Regions from separate parts of the Homo sapiens genome. Here region 1 is linked to region 2. The links come from fine-mapping of genetic effects on gene expression. A gene starts in region 2. The other region holds a variant in brackets. All regions are shown on one strand. Distances are from middle to middle.

What was found. PIP is the estimated chance that this variant, and not a neighbour inherited with it, causes the effect.
Region 1: its variant is the best candidate, but not a certain one, in a credible set for the expression of CHRNE in whole blood (TOPMed, PIP 0.71).

The regions. Positions count from the first base shown.
Region 1 is chr17:4,850,533-4,858,858 of GRCh38, reverse strand. The region is part of intron 1 of MINK1 (misshapen like kinase 1); the gene reads right to left. It also overlaps the pseudogene ATP6V0CP1. Among named protein-coding and RNA genes, the nearest start is that of MINK1, 21 kb to the right of the region's middle. RefSeq lists an enhancer at 4,062-5,013. The variant G/T (reference allele first, on the strand shown) is at 3,980.
Region 2 is chr17:4,898,953-4,907,256 of GRCh38, reverse strand. CHRNE (cholinergic receptor nicotinic epsilon subunit) reads left to right here and starts at 4,159. Exons shown (of 12, transcript NM_000080.4): 1 at 4,159-4,239; 2 at 4,494-4,636; 3 at 4,763-4,807; 4 at 4,931-5,040; 5 at 5,170-5,325; 6 at 5,632-5,732; 7 at 6,067-6,267; 8 at 6,350-6,464; 9 at 7,675-7,789; 10 at 7,873-8,059; 11 at 8,150-8,256. The coding sequence starts at 4,194. C17orf107 (chromosome 17 open reading frame 107) reads right to left here and starts at 7,721. Exons shown (of 3, transcript NM_001145536.2): 1 at 7,429-7,721; 2 at 7,112-7,321; 3 at 4,323-7,020. The coding sequence starts at 7,494. The coding sequence ends at 6,724. RefSeq lists silencers at 3,329-3,623, 7,845-7,954, 7,975-8,124 and enhancers at 3,755-3,974, 4,164-4,805, 4,806-5,447, 7,335-7,644.

The DNA.
Region 1 (8,326 bases), 48 kb after region 2:
AAAGGCAGGCTTCCTGCTGTTACTAACCATACCAGGACTGACTATACAGCAGCCAGAAAGATTCTGAGAAACCTGTGATAGAGAAAAACAGATGCGGAAGCGGGAGAAGAGAATTTCATAGGACACTAGGGAAAGAGAATGGGAACTTGTGGTCTAAAGAGGGAACCAAGTCTGGCCAACATGGTGAAACCCCATCTCTATTACAAATACAAAAATTAGCTGGGCATGGTAGTGCATGCCTGTAATCCCAGCTACTCAGGAGGGTAAGGCATGAGAATCACTTGAGACTGGGAGGCGGAGGTTGCAGTGAGCCGAGACTGCACCACTGCACTCCAGCCTGGGCAACAGAGCAAGACCTCGTCTCAAAAAAAAAAAAAAATTAAATTTAAATTAAAAAAAAATAAACAGGGAACCAACAAGAGCTGGCAGAACAGAATAAAGTCTCAAGCCAAATAACTCCCTTGCCTTGGAAGAACAAGGCTGCCAGCGTCTTGGAGCCTCTGTTTATCGGGTACCAGTTCAAAGGACAGTGAGCCTGAGCTGGCCTGGGAGGCCCTCCCCCCTCCCAGATGAAAACAATAGGCCTGTTTTCCTGAGCTCTTCCTGTAATCCAGAAGGCCCACACAGAGAGGAAGAGGGGGGCAAAGGCAGTGGCTATACCCAGTGGGGGAGGGGATATTTAGCCTCCCATAAATTCATCAGCTCCCTTAAAGACACCCCAAAACACCAACAATCTAAGTGTTAAAATAGTGACTGCTATGCAAATGGAGCTTTAAAACCTATCCCTTAGCCCCAGTACCACCAGATTACTAACCCTAAACCCCATCTGTAGGAGATATTCTGAAGCCACCACAGGGGAAGGGATAAGGGCCTGAGAGACAAAGGACAGATGGGGTCTCCCCAACAATTTAAGTTAAGTTCCACAAGGATACAGTACTGGCAGAGATTTGGAAGTAGGGGCAAGTATTCTGACAGAAGGGTGGTGTCTTAGGCACCCTTCAATTAGGAGTAGCTAAAGGCTGTGTGTGTGTCTGTGTGTGTGCATAAGAAAAGAAATAGGAGGGTGTGTGTGTGGTAAGAAAGAGCATCTTGGCTGGGCGCGGTGGCTCACCCCTATAATCGCAGCACTTTGGGATGCCAAGGCTGGCGGATTGCCTGAGCTCAGGAGTTTGAGACCATACGGGGCAACATGGTGAAACCCCATCTCTACTAAAAATACAAAAAATTAGCTGGGCATGGTGGTGCGTGCCTATAGTTCCAGCTACTCGGGAGGCTGAGGCATGAGAATGGCTTGAGCCCTGGAGGCAGAGGTTGAAGTGAGCTGAGATCGCACCATTGCATTCCAGCTTGGGCTACAGAGTGACACTCCATCTCAAAAAAAAAAAAAAAAAAAAAAAAAACCAGCATCTTTGCTGCCACTAGTCCACTGTCTTTGCACTCACTCTCTGCCATGCCCATCCTTGTCCCCCTCCCCACTCACAGACATGTCCAACAACAGCCCCGAGTATGCTTTGGTTTTCACCATCTCGGGTGCTATGGCCACCATGGTCTCCAGTGGCCTGGGTGCTGCCTGTGGCATGGCCAAGAATGGCACCGGCATCATGGCCATGTCTGTCATGTGGCCAGAGCTGATCCACATGAAGTCCATCATCCCAGTGGTCATGGCTGGTATCATCACCATCTATGGCCTAGTGGCGGCTGTCCCCCCTGCCAACTCCCTGAATGATGACAACAGTCTCTATAGCAGTTTCCTCCAGCTGGGCGCTGGCCTGAGTGGCCTGGCAGCCGGCTTTGCCATCGTCATCGTGGGGGACACTGGCAAGTGTGGCACTGCCCAGCAGCCCCGACTATTTGTAGGCATGATACTGATCCTCATCTTTGCCAAGGTGCTCATTCTCTCCACAAAGCAGCCCCTCTCAAAACCCACCAGTCACAGAATACGATGTAAAGACCACCCCTCCTCATTCCGGAACAAACAGCCTGACACGCATGTGCTGGGCAGCTGGCCCTCAGTAGTTGATCTTCTAAGTGTACAGTGTCCTCGTGTTCATCGTCTGTTGGCCAGGCCTTGCCCCCTCCCGCCCCATGCTGTGGACATCTGAACCTACTCATCACCCATCCAGGTCCCCGACCAGTGAGGACTCAGGCCCCTGGATGCCCCACCCATCTCCCTTGAGTACTCTATGTATAAGGATGAATTAGAGTTGTCATTTTCTCTTCATTAGATATTTATAAAGATTTGGCCTGTCCATACCCCTGTGGAGCAGCCCTCATCTCCCACCTATCTGTCACGTCATGGAGGTTCCCATTGCGGAGGCTCCTTGGATGGAACCACCCTCTCCAGCCCGCGCTGCCAGGCCCTGTGCGGCAGCTGTGTCTGATAAAGTTCTCAGATGTCGGGGGAGGGAAAGAAAAAAAAAAGAGAGTGTGAGTACGTAAGAGAGAGAAAACGGGAGTGGGTGTGTGAGCTGGAGACAGGGAAGTGGCAGGAAAAGTCTGATAAGATCACCTCCTTCCTACCCAAGCAGAGATACTGGACACAGCCCCTCAAGGACCCAGAGGGTAAGTAGAGCGCGAGATGCTTGCCTTTCTCAATGGGAGGTGGCCTCCCAGGCCTGAAGAAGTCTCCATTTACCCCAGAGCCAACTAGGAAGCAGGTAGACAGCATCATCCCCACTTATACCCCAAGGTGCTTGGGGTGAATGGCAGGCCCAAAGCCAAAGCATGAGACAGATTAAATGTTCCTATGGCGAGAGAAGGAGAAGGGGTCACCAGCATCTCTCCACTGAGCAAATGAAAGGAAGAGAGAAGGCAGGCTGATACCCTCATCAATTTCCTACTGTCCATGATATACCACCATCAACTGGACTTTTTTTTTTTTTTTGAGATAGAGTCTCGCTTTTGTCACCCAGGCTGGAGTGCAGTGGCATGATCTCAGCTCACTGCAACTTCCATCTCCCAGGTTCAAGTGATTCTCCCGCCTCAGCCTCCTGAGTAGCTGGGATTACAGGTGCCTGCTACCACATCCAGCTGATTTTTTTTGTATTTTTAGTAGAGATGGGGTTTCTTTCTTTTTTTTTTTTTTTTTTGAGACGGAGTCTTGCTCTGTCGCCCAGGCTGGAGTGCAGTGGCGCGATCTCGGCTCACTGCAACCTCCGCCTCCCAGGTTCACGCCATTCTCCTGCCTCAGCCTCCCGAGTAGCTGGGACTACAGGCACCTGCCACCACACTCGGCTAATTTTTTGTATGTTTAGTAGATATGGGGTTTCACTGCTGTCTCAACCTTCTGACCTCATGATCCGCCCGCCTCGGCCTCCCAAAGTGCTGGGATTACAGGCATGAGCCACTGTGCCCGGCCTTTTTTTTTTTTTTTGAGATGGAGTCTCGCTCTGTCGCCCAGGCTGGAGTGCAATGCCACAATCTCAGCTCACTGCAAGCTCCACCTCCGAGGTTCACGCCATTCTCCTGCCTCAGCCTCCTGAGTAGCTGGGACTACAGGCGCCCGCCACCACGCCCAGCTAATTTTTTGTATTTTTAGTAGAGACGGGGTTTCACCTTGTTAGCCAGGATGGTCTTGATCTCCTGACCTCGTGATCCACCTGCCTCAGCCTCCCAAAGTGCTGGGATTACAGGTGTGAGCCACCATGCCTGGCCTTTTTTTTTTTTTTAAGACAGGAGTGTGGTGGCACAATCTCAGCTCACTGCAACCTCCCCTTCTAGGTTCAAGCAATTCTCCTGCCTCAGCTTCCTAAGTATAGTAATAGCTGGGACTATAGGCGCCCACCACCACGCCCGGCTAATCTTTTGTATTTTTAGTAGAGATGGGGTTTCACCATGTTGGCCAGGCTGGTCTCGAATTGCTGACCTCAAGTGATCTGCCCACCTGGGCCTCCCAAAGTGCTGGGACTATAGGCGGGAGCCACCGCGCCCAGCCTGGACTCTTTTTAATGAAGCCTTCAAAAAAACTCCTTTTCTCAGC[G/T]CTTCTTACTCTCTGAAACAGACTCTCCACTCTGCTAACCCTGCCTCTCACACTGTGGAACTCAACCGGATCTTTTTATTCTGAATCCACAACGTGAAGTACTTGTCCTCTGTCTATCGATGGCTACCTGTGTTTTGAAGTGTTTTTATGGGAATGAAGCACTGGAGGGGAGGAAATCAGGCCAGTTCTAGAAGTAGAAGGAAGGCGAAGAAACCAGGAAAAATATTTATGTGATGGGAGGAAAGGCAGTTTATAAATCACTCATGGATCTCTATGCCAGAGGGATGTGTGAGACACACGCATGCACACACACACTGACTTGCAGGTACATGCAGAGGCAGAAACAAGTCAGGACATGACACATACATGAATACACATACCATTCTCATCAGAAACCAGTCAGAGCAGAGGGGCCCTGCCTGGAGCAAGGAGACTGGAATTTATTCCCCTCCTCCTCTCAAAGGGTAATTTTGCTGCCTCCATGTCTAGGTTCCCCACAGATCTGGCTGCCTCAGACAGGGGCCCTGGTCTGGTGGCTGGACTCAGCCTGGAGGTCTTCACAGATGGAGGCCTATAAGAGGTGGCAGCTGACACCTGGAGGGAGCTGGATGAAAGCAGGCAGTGCAGAGTAGAGAAAGCCAGGTGGTGGGGGAGGGAGTGAGGGAGAAGAGGGGACCAGATTCAAGCAGCCTTGCGCTGGTTCTAAAATGGCCACAGCAAGGCAACGGACAGATGGTCCCTTTCTGATGCTGAGCCGGGGAAGTGGGGAAAGGGAAAAGGAAAAAATAAACACCATCACAGTCAGAAATTTAAAAATAAACTGAAAAACCTAAAAAATAAACCGTTTGCTTCTGAGGTTCCGTCTGCCTCCAGAACCTTCTAAGGGAAAATACAGAACTGCAGGCCTGGAAGGGCAGCCCCAGCCTCGGGTGTGAAGATAGTTGGAGGTCATTCTAGCCATCTCCTATCCCCAGCTGGAGTATCTTGCAAAGTCTTTCAGGCAGCGGAGGTGGTATCTCAGCCTTTACCTCCCCAGCACTTCTTCTCAAGTCTCACTGTAGGTAAGCGAGGCCATGGCTTTTCAAATGTCAGAGCCGTTTGATTCTGTCTCTCTCCCAAGAATCAGTTTCCGTCCGAGATCAGCAGAATCAAGTTCATCCTCTCACAGTTGCTGCCTCTCCTACCACCACCCAACTGCCCAGACTTTACAGTTCACAGGGTGCTTTCACAGTCATGACTGCATCTGCACTTAAACCTGCAGGGAAGCTTGGCAGGAATGACTAGCTCAGAGCACAGATGAGAAAGCCAGGGCTCTAACAAGTGAAATGTTTGTCAAGGTGAAGCAAGCGCTCAAACTTGCATAGCCTTCCGATGGCACACAGCAACAACCACACTCCCCCACCAACCACACTCTTCCCACCAACCACACTCCCCCCACCAACCACACTCCCCCTCAACCACACTCCACCAACCACACTCCCCCAACCACACTCTTCCCACCAACCACACTCCCCCCAACCACACTCTTCCCACCAACCACACTCCCCCACCAACCACACTCTTCCCACCAACCACACTCCCCCACCAACCACTCTACCTACCAACCACATTCCCCCCACCAACCACACTCTTCCCACCAACCACACTCCCTCACCAACCACACTCCCCCCACCAACCACACTCCCCCCACCAACCACACTCCCCCTCAACCACACTCCCCCACCAACCACACTCCCCCACCAACCACACTCCCCCCACCACACTCCCCCAACCACACTTCCCCCACCAACCACACTCCCCCCATCAACCACACTCCCCCCACCAACCACACTCCCCCTCAACCACACTCTCCCCACCAACCACACTCCCCCCACCAACCACACTCCCCCATCAATCACACTCCTCCACCAACCACACTCCCCACCAACCACACTCCCCCTCAACCACACTCCCCCCAACAACCACACTCCCCCACCAACCACACTCCCCCACAAATCACACTCCCCCACCAACCACACTCCCCCACCAACCACACTCCCCCACCAACCACACTCCCCCACAAACCACACTCCCCCACCAAACACACTCCACCCATCAACCACACTCCCCCACAAATCACACCCCCCCCACCCAGTAGATTCTGTCTCCCTCTGTGGGCCAAACAGGTTCTTCCTCAGGCTCACATATGACTGCTGTACAGCTGAATATCCCAGCTATGGTTTACCTGGAGCCTTGCCAATTCTCATGCTGGTGCCTTTTGGTTCTTGCTGGTGTGGGGATGAGGCAGAGGGGCAGGAACACTGCACTAACTAGTGGCTTTCTCTCTGTTCCTTCTCACTCCTGGGTCTCCACATGCTGTTCATCACTCTCCTCCTCTTTACCTGGATGCCTCGTGCCTGTGCCTCCCGACCTCCACTGAGACAATGTCACCTCCAGGAAGTGCCCCTCACAATCCTCTCCTCCCACAATACCCTGTACTGACTCTTTCGTGACACCAATTACATTTTTGTGATTGATTCTCTTATCTGTCTCCTCTGCTAGACTAAGTTCTTGGAGGTCAGGGCTGCCCTCAATACCTGTCTGTGGAATGAATGAATACAGAAATAAAAGAAAAACCTCCCTCCTTCCTTAATGCAGCAGTTATCTAGAAAAACCTCCCTCCTTCCTTAATGCAGCAGTTTCTCACACTAGTTTTGGATTATCTCCATCCTTCCAAAATAATCCTTGAATATTCACTTAAGTGGAATGCATTAGAGCAGCTACTAAAAGTGAATCTCCTTTTTGTCATATGAATCAGCACCTCATAATTTATATGCTTGGTAAATGTTTTACCAGAGAGTGGACTTTCTTAGTTTTTTTTTTTTTTTTTTTTTTTTTTTTGAGACAGAGTCTCACTCTGTTGCCCAGGCTGGAGTGCAGTGGGGTGATCTCAGCTCACCGCATCCTCTGCCTCCCCGATTCAAGTGATTCTCCTGTCCCAGCCTCCCAAGTAGTTGGGATTACAGGCACAAGCCACCACACCCGGCTAATTTTTGTATTTTTAGTAGAGACAGGGTTTACCTTGTTGGTCAGGCTGGTCTTGAACTCCTGACCTCAGGTGATCCACCCACCTTGGCCTCCTAAAGTGCTGGGATTACAGGCGTGAGCCACCACGCACGGCCCGAGAGTGGACTTTCTTAAGGCAGGGAATTCCTACGTGGTTGGCAAAAACCACACGGGAACACTAATAATGGCCCAAAGAGGTCGGGAGACAATGGGGCCAGGAGAGATGAAGGGAAGGCTTCTCGGAGGAGAAAAGAGCTCAGCGCAGTGGAAAGGAGAAGGAAACGGGCAGAGGCTGGGCTGGGTGAGAAGGGCCAAAGAAGTCCCCATCGCAGGGGGGCAGACAGCGAGCAGGAAGGCTCTAAGATGGAAGAGGGTAACTCAGGGGTAGGCTTTCTTAGCTGAGGACAACAGCAAGACAGGAGTGTGGTGAAATGGAATGATGGTGCTTAGTGTTTACTGCACTAAGAATCAGAAGGCCTGGGCACTGGTTCTGACTCTTCTGTATAATTTAGGCAAATCCGCAAATCACTTAACCTCTTGGAGGTTCTTTTCCTTATCTACCCAGGCCCATTTCACAAGAATTCACCGATGTGGAAACATTTTAAAATCCATAAAATGCTACAAATTTGCATAGAGTCATTATGAAGAAACTGGCTCCCACAAAGCAAGGCAAAACTGTGGCAAAAAGTGATTTACCAAAACTGTTGGCGTTACTGGGATTTAGGGTGAAGTGTGGCAGTTCAGGAGAGAAGAAACAAGATAAAAAGTAGAATTGAGAGGAAGGCAGGTGAGACAGAAGGGAGGAAAACCAGATCTGTGGCCTCGGAGGCAGGCTGACAGGGGCAGGGAGGAGGGCCAGTCCCTGGGAAGCAGACACCAGAGAGAGCAAGGAAGGGCACAGCATGGCAGTGGGAGGGGGCAGAAAGGAGATGCCAGGCCCGTTCAGGCTGGCAGATACCAAGCTAACGGAGGAGGACAACACTAGTAATGAGGGGTTGGATAATAATAAGGCTTCTTGCTGCTGGTTTTCAATTGCAGCACAAACAGATCATTATATCTTATTGCCAGCCTCCTTCTGTGGGAGTCAGGTGTCCACAAACCCAAGGAAGAGACTAGAGAAGCTTCATGACCAAGAAAACTTGTGACCTGTACCCATATGATTTCGAATTCCAGAAGACCAATGACAGGCCATGAGAGAAAACTTAGGAAGGAAAGCTCTGAAGGACAAGGGGACAGGAAAAGAGATCCTGGAAGGAGAGGGAGAGGGTGTGAAGCTGAGTCAGCTGTAGGAAGAACAGGTAG
Region 2 (8,304 bases):
GCCATAATCACTTTTTTTTTTAATTCCCCCAATCATTTATCCTTTAAGTTACCAACCATGCAATTACACTCTTAAGTTTTTTTTAACATGTACAATGAAATTATTATTGACTACAGTCACTCTGTTGTGCTATCAAATAGTAGGTCTTATTCTATTTTTTTTGTACCCATTAACCATCCCCACCATCCACCTACCTGCCCACTACCCTTCCCAGCCTCTGGTAACCATCCTTCTACTCTCTATGTCCATGAGGTCAATTGTTTTGATTTTTAACTCCCACAAATAAGTGAGAACATGCAATGATTGTCTTTCTGTGCCTGGCTTATTTCACCTAACATAATGATCTCCAGTTCCATTCATGTTGTTGCAAATGACAGGATCTCATCCTTTTTTATGGGTGAATGGTGCTCCATTGTGTATATGTACCACATTTGCTTTATCCATTCATCTGTGTTTTTCTTTTTTCTTTTTTTTTTAAACAGTTTTCTCTCTTGTTTCCCAGGCTAGGATGCAGTGGCATGATCTTGGCTCACCATTCATCTGTTTTTTAAAATTTTATTTATTTATTTACAGATGAGGTCTCACTATATTGCCCAGGCTGGTCTTGAACTCCCAGGCTCAAGCAATTCTCCTACCTCAGCCTCCCAGTGATGACCAATGATGCTGAGCACGTTTTCTTATACCTGTTTGGCATTTGTGTGTCTTATTTTGAGAAGCGTCTATTCAAATCTTCTGCCCTCTTTTTGATCAGATTATTAGATTTTTTTTCTCATAATCACTTTTTGAAGCAAGATTTCAAGTTTGAATCCTGCTGGGGAGGATAGAGTGAATTTATATTAACTGTATTAATTTATGTATATTTCATATATTTGTATATATTTCAGCTCTAGCAGTGAGAATGGCATCCTGGCAGGCCGTTTTGGGAGCTAAACATATAGGAGAAGTGGGCTGGGTTGCTAGAGGGTGAATTACCAGACATGTGGTGTCAGGGCCTGCCACACCCACTATCCATCCTAAACAAGGCAGTCTTAGGCCAACCCCATGATCCTTCTTCAGTGTTGGCACCCCAAGCCCTCAGAGCATCAGGCAGTAGCAACGGGAACAAAAGTGCTGCCTCTGCAGAGAGAAGCCAAGAAGTTGGTCTGGGGCTAAGACCATGGTGAAATGATGCACAGGTGACGAGAAAGCAGAAACTACACAGTAGAAAGGGGACATGCAAAGTAGGGGGAATGGGCAGTGCTGACGAAGTGAGAGGAGCAGAGAGCGGACAGAGCGGCAGAGACAGATCAGGAGACAGGCTCTGGAGCTGCCTTGGCCTCTGACACTGGTCTAGTAAGTTCCAGTCCATGTGCAAGACTACAGGAAACCTAGGAGAAACTTCATTTTTTTGTTTTTTGAGATGGAGTCTCACTCTGTCACCCGGGCTGGAGTGCAGTGGCACGATCTCGGCTCACTGCAACCTCCGTCTCCCAGGTTCAAGTGATTCTCCTGCCTCAGCCTCCCGAGTAGCTGGGATTACAGGTGCCAGCCACCACACCCAGCTAATTTTTGTGTTTTTAGTAGAGATGGGGTTTCACCATGTTGGCCAGACTGGTCTCGAACTCTTGACCTCAGGTGGTCCACCTGCCTTGGCCTCCCAAAGTGCTGGGATTACAGGTGTTGAGCCACCGCATCCAGCCGGAAACTTCATTTTTTTGAGATAGGGTCTCGCTTGTCACCCAGGCTGGAGTGTAGTGTGATCGTAGCTCACTGTGTCCTTGATCTCTTAGGGTCAAGCAATCCTCCCGCCTCAGCCTCCTAAGTAGCTGGGACTACAGGCATGCACCATGATGCCTGGCTAATATTTTTTGTTGTTGTTTATTTATTTTTGTAGAGATGGGGGGTCTCACTGTGTTGCCCAGGCTGGTCTTGAACTCCTGGGCTCAAGTGATGCTCCAGCCTCAGCCTCCCAAATAGTTAGGATTACAGGCATGAGCCACTGTGCCTGGCCAAAACCTTGCTTTTCTGACAGATCTGATTCACCCTAGCTACAGATTCTATAGCACCTGTTTATTTTTATGCTTCTCATAGTCTGGCATCACTGGCTGTTGATAGGTCTCTGTCATTAGATGATAACTCCTTGAGGCTTGTTTTATCCATCTCAATAACCGTAGCACTCGGCCCTGTAAGGGGGAACTTTGTAGGTGTCCACTGATGTTTGAATAAATATTTGCATTTATCACAATTCTTGTCCCAAGCCTTGACGCGGAAGCTCTGGAATAAGCAGCAGCACAGATTTGAGACTTAGTCCATGTACCAGCCACATGCAAAGAGGTAAGCTGGGTCAAAGAGACCCAGAAAGGGAGTCTGAAATGGAAATCGTGGGGTTGATAAGGCAGCAGTGGAAACAGAGGCTTTACACAAGTGTGGGAAATGGACTAGGAGGACACTCTGTTATTTGATGTGTCCTCGCTTGTAACATGGAGGTGATTATGACCTACCTCATAGGTGGGGGAAGGAGACCCAAAGGTGATGGACCCGAAAGTGTTTTGTGAAGGGTAAAATAAACACAGGTGTGCGAGATCAATAGAGTTGATTGATAAGTCTCATGCATTATTGCCAATCTACTTGTGTGACCCTGGATCCCGACCTTAGCATCCCCTTTCATGTATTCAGGACAGTGATCATTGCTTTGCTGGACTGCTGTGAGGAAATGAGATGTAAGCAGAAAATATGCTTAGGCCAGCCCCTCCTACCTCACGAGGAACACCTGGACAGTTTCCTAAAAATACAGATTCCTGGCACCCTAGTCCCGAAATCATAATTCTCTGGGAATGGAGCCTAGGAATCTGAATTTAAAATAAGCACCCCTCCAGGTGATTAGAATGGTTCAAGAAGGCTTTAAAAAACACTGAGGCCGGGCGTGGTGGCTCACACCTGTAATCCTAACCCTTTGGGAAGCTGAGGCAGGAGGATCGCTTTAGCCCAGGAGTTTGAGAGCCGCAGTGAACTATGGTGGTGCCACTGTACTCCTGTCTGGGTGACAGAGTGAGATCCTGTCCCCCCACCCCCTGCAAAAAACAAAAAACAAAAAAAGAAACAGAAAAACAAAAAACATCGAGGCTGGGCGCGGTGGCTCACGCCTATAATCCCAGCACTTTGGGAGGCCCAGGTAGGTGGCTCACGAGGTCAGGAGATCGAGACCATCCTGGCTAACATGGTGAAACCCCATCTCTACTAAAAAATACAAAAATTAGCCGGGCATGGTGGCATGCGCCTGTAGTCCCAGCTACTCCAGAGGTTGAGGCAGGAGAATCGCTTGAACCCGGGAGGCGGAGGTTGCAGTGAGCCGAGATCATGCCACTGCACTCCAGTCTGGGCGCCAGAGCGAGACTTGGTCTCAAAAAAATTTTTTTTAAAAAGGAACATCAAAAGGATCTATTAAGGTGTCATCAGGTGTGTGTGTATGTGTGCACGTGTGTGTTTAGGAGAGTAGGATGGGAAGACGGTACTATCATCTGTGACCACAAGGTGGCAGCAGGGATAGACAAGGAGAAACAAGTCTCCCACCCAGAGGGGCTGGGCATGGGCAAACCTGGCGATCAGGTTGTGGAAGGAGGTGGGTCCTTTACATGATCTCCTTTGCTAGATGGAATCTCTGTACCGCAGGGCTAATCCCCTGTGACCACCTGTCTCTTTATCAGGTCTTTATGGAGACTGTTTTTTGCCACTCTGTCGGCAAGAAAGGCATTGTGAGCTTGGGTGGTGATAGTGTGTGTTCCACATGGGTGAGAATGGGAGGCAAGGGGTGTGTCACATCCCCAGATGTGTTCATCAGTCAGGGTCACCTACACAGGGCAGCTTACTCAAAGGACAACAGTGCCTGCTGAAAGCAGTGTCTCCCACCCCCTGCTACTAGAATTGTGGTTGCAGGTGCCTCTCAGGAGACGCCCACATCTGTGGCTGGGGAGTTGGCCAAATACCAGGCAAAGGACGCTGGGCTGGGGCGGGGCAGGGGCAGGAAACACAGGATGGGGCAGCTGCCTCTGGAAGCAGCCAAAATGTCCCCAGCTGCAGCAGGGGTGAGCAGAGGATTAGGTGACAGTCCCCTAACAGCCCGGAACTAACACCCTCCTCCCCCTCACACAGGCACCCTGGCATGCCCCCTCCAAGCCTGCCAGAGCTCAGAATAACCCTGAGAACCACGCAGCAGGATGGCAAGGGCTCCGCTTGGGGTCCTGCTCCTCTTGGGGCTTCTCGGTACGGACAGGGGCTAGAGGGGCAATTGGACACACACAGATACTGACATGAAGGGACTGGGAAGACAAAGACAGAGACCAAGATGGAGACTTAGACACAGTATTTCGTTCCCAGGCACAGCATAATTGGTTTAGGAGACAGATACTGATAGTACACAGCCTCAGAGGCCTGTGAGGACCCAGGGGAGGCAGAGGGGAGAGAGGTGCTCCAGCCTCTTCATTGCCAATGACCCTTCCTTCTTGACCCCATCGCAGGCAGGGGTGTGGGGAAGAACGAGGAACTGCGTCTTTATCACCATCTCTTCAACAACTATGACCCAGGAAGCCGGCCAGTGCGGGAGCCTGAGGATACTGTCACCATCAGCCTCAAGGTCACCCTGACGAATCTCATCTCACTGGTAAGCTACCCCCACCCTCATCTTAAGCCAAAAATCCCACTTCTGGCCCCAACCGCTGAGCTCTGTCCTAAAGCTCACTTCTGGCCCTGAAATCTCACTTCAATCATCCCCATCTCCCATCTGCAGAATGAAAAAGAGGAGACTCTCACCACTAGCGTCTGGATTGGAATCGTGAGTCAAATCTGGGGAATGGTGTGAGGTCTTGTCCAGGGCACCCCTTTTCCCCCAAACCCCTCCCAGGCAGCGCCAGGTGGGAGATGCAGGGCACGCGGCCTTCCATCCCCCACCCCTTAGGATTGGCAGGATTACCGACTCAACTACAGCAAGGACGACTTTGGGGGTATAGAAACCCTGCGAGTCCCTTCAGAACTCGTGTGGCTGCCAGAGATTGTGCTGGAAAACAAGTGAGAACCGGGCCAGACGCCAGGCTGGAGGGAAGCCGGCCTGGGGTGCGGGCTGGACTTGGTTGGGGAAGGGGGTACTCTGAGAGGGTGCAGACCTGTGCAAAAAGCTCGGTTTCCCCGAGCCCACAGTATTGATGGCCAGTTCGGAGTGGCCTACGACGCCAACGTGCTCGTCTACGAGGGCGGCTCCGTGACGTGGCTGCCTCCGGCCATCTACCGCAGCGTCTGCGCAGTGGAGGTCACCTACTTCCCCTTCGATTGGCAGAACTGTTCGCTTATTTTCCGGTGGGAAGAGCTACTCCGAGGCCCGGACGATTATTGTTGGGGGGGGGCCTTATGGGGCGGGGCCAACCGGGAAGCACCGCCCTCGGGGCGGGGCTTCGCGCTGGAGGCGGAGCCAGGCGTAGGCACTGGGTGGGACGCTCCAGCGCGGCCGGAGGTACAGATGGGAACAGAGGCGTGCGGGCTGGGCTTGGGTGAAGGGGTGGGCTTGGGATCGCGGCCCCGCTAGATCCCAGCTTCCAGGGCTGGGCCTGAGGCCGGGGCCCAGGTCAGAGCTTCTGGGGTGGGCTCCCGGCCCTGGCTCCGCAGCTCTCAGACGTACAATGCCGAAGAGGTGGAGTTCACTTTTGCCGTAGACAACGACGGCAAGACCATCAACAAGATCGACATCGACACAGAGGCCTATACTGGTGAAGCCCCTGCCTGCTCAGAAAAACCCGCTTCTAGACGGGGTCCAGAGAGGGGACTTCCACGGTGGGCTTGCCCCGGACCAACGACACTGGAGGATGACTTCCACAACTGGGTTTAGCTTACCCCTGTCCTGAAATCATTCTCGATTGTTACTCTAGTCCTGCCTTCTGGCTTTCCATACCCTCAACGAGAATGCCCTTTTCTGTCCGTAATTGCCCCCATCCTGACGGCCCATGACCCTGGTGCAGACAGCCGCAGCCTCCTCTTCAGCCCGCTGTCAGCTCGGCGGGCGCCCCGCTCTGACAGCCAGCTGACCGTGCCCCCGTCCCGCAGAGAACGGCGAGTGGGCCATCGACTTCTGCCCGGGGGTGATCCGCCGCCACCACGGTGGCGCCACCGACGGCCCAGGGGAGACTGACGTCATCTACTCGCTCATCATCCGCCGGAAGCCGCTCTTCTACGTCATTAACATCATCGTGCCCTGTGTGCTCATCTCGGGCCTGGTGCTGCTCGCCTACTTCCTGCCGGCGCAGGGTAAGCAGTGGCCCCGAACCTACCCCCAAACCCGGGCTCGCTCCCGGGAGGCGGGGCCCGCTCTCACTGGCTCTCCCTCCAGCCGGCGGCCAGAAATGCACGGTCTCCATCAACGTCCTGCTCGCCCAGACCGTCTTCTTGTTCCTCATTGCCCAGAAAATCCCAGAGACTTCTCTGAGCGTGCCGCTCCTGGGCAGGTGAAGCCGGAGCCCCCGCGGGGGTGTGGCCAGTGTGAAGGGTGGGGGCGTGGCCAAAACCCAGAGACCCCGGGAAAAGCTCTGGCTGTCTCGCCCCGCCCTGGGCTTTATTCGGACGCTGGGTGGGGCTGGTACGGGGATGGAGTCCCTGGTCCGCCGTCCTCCTCACTGCTGCTGGACGTCACCTGGAGGTCTCCCGAGTAGCTCTCTTGGGGGACAGTCCGGCTCAGTGCCTCCCTAGCCCCGCCGCCTCTGGCCCCTAACTCACCCCGTGTCCTGAGCTCACCGGTTCTCCGGGGATTCCGAGGCCTAGCTGCTGTTGCGACTGTCGCAGGAATGAGGCAGACCCCTGCAGACCCCGTCCACACAGGCATAGCCATGCTCCCTGGACTAGGAGCCGGGCGCTGGCGCCCACCGCAGCCCCAGCTTGCCGAACCCCCTGCCCTGCGGCTTGGGCTACCCGGCTCAGCGCTGCACCCGGATCCCTGCCGTCTGGGGCTGGGCCCGCGCTGCCGTCTAGTCGCCGCGCCTCCTGCTGCAGCCACAGGGCTGAGATCTGCATTGGGGGCACAGGGGTTAGCGGGGAGGCAGAGGTCCTTGTTCCCGCTACCCGATCGCCGCGTATCCTAAGCCCCCCAGTACCCCACCTCTAACAAGGTGGTGCCGAAGCTCACGAGGCTGGCTGTGGCTTCTCTCAACACCAGCCCCAGGGTGGGCTTCGGGGCAGGCAGCATCCCCTGCATCTTCGGTTCGGGTGGCTCCAGGGACTTCAGCTCTCTGAACCTCTGCTCCAGATATTCATGGGCTGCGGCCACGGAGAGTTCCAGGGAAGACAGAAGCGGGGGCTGGAGGGCCACCTGGAGAAGGAGCAGAGCAGTAGAGTAGCAGGGCAGGGGTCACAGGGGCGAACAGGAGACCTACCCAGAAGGTCTCGAGGTGCAGCCCTTGGCGGGCGTAGCCTCACCTCGGTGGAGCTGTGGAAGTGGTAGATCCACATCAGGGTGTCCAGGGAGCTGGGGGTCCCCTTCATGGCCGCCACAAGTGGTAGGACAGGAGAAGGGCTGGGGGACGCGTCTGTCGTCGTGTAGGGGGCGCAGCTGGAGGGCGTAACCAGCCCGTACCAGGAGAAGCCGTGTTTGTGAGGTCAGCGCGCGGCGCCTTCGGTAGCTGGGAGGAGGAACGGTGATGTCATGCCTTCCGGGCTCCTCAGGTTCCTTATTTTCGTCATGGTGGTCGCCACGCTCATTGTCATGAATTGCGTCATCGTGCTCAACGTGTCCCAGCGGACGCCCACCACCCACGCCATGTCCCCGCGGCTGCGCCACGTAAGCGCGGAGGGGGCGGTGCAGCCCGGGTCGGGGTGGGGCTTCGTACTAACCTCGTCCCCTAAGCCCCGCCCCTGCCCCAGGTTCTCCTGGAGCTGCTGCCGCGCCTCCTGGGCTCCCCGCCGCCGCCCGAGGCCCCCCGGGCCGCCTCGCCCCCAAGGCGGGCGTCGTCGGTGGGCTTATTGCTCCGCGCGGAGGAGCTGATACTGAAAAAGCCACGGAGCGAGCTCGTGTTTGAGGGGCAGAGGCACCGGCAGGGGACCTGGACGGGTGAGCACAGTGGCCCTGGCCCGGGGGGCCGCGCGGGGTGCCTGCCAGGGGGGAGGCTCCTAAGGCCCACCCCGGTGTTTTCCCCGCCAGCTGCCTTCTGCCAGAGCCTGGGCGCCGCCGCCCCCGAGGTCCGCTGCTGTGTGGATGCCGTGAACTTCGTGGCCGAGAGCACGAGAGATCAGGAGGCCACCGGCGAGGTGGGACAGGAGCCAGAGGCGGGTGGAGCGAGGCAGAGGCCCACCACT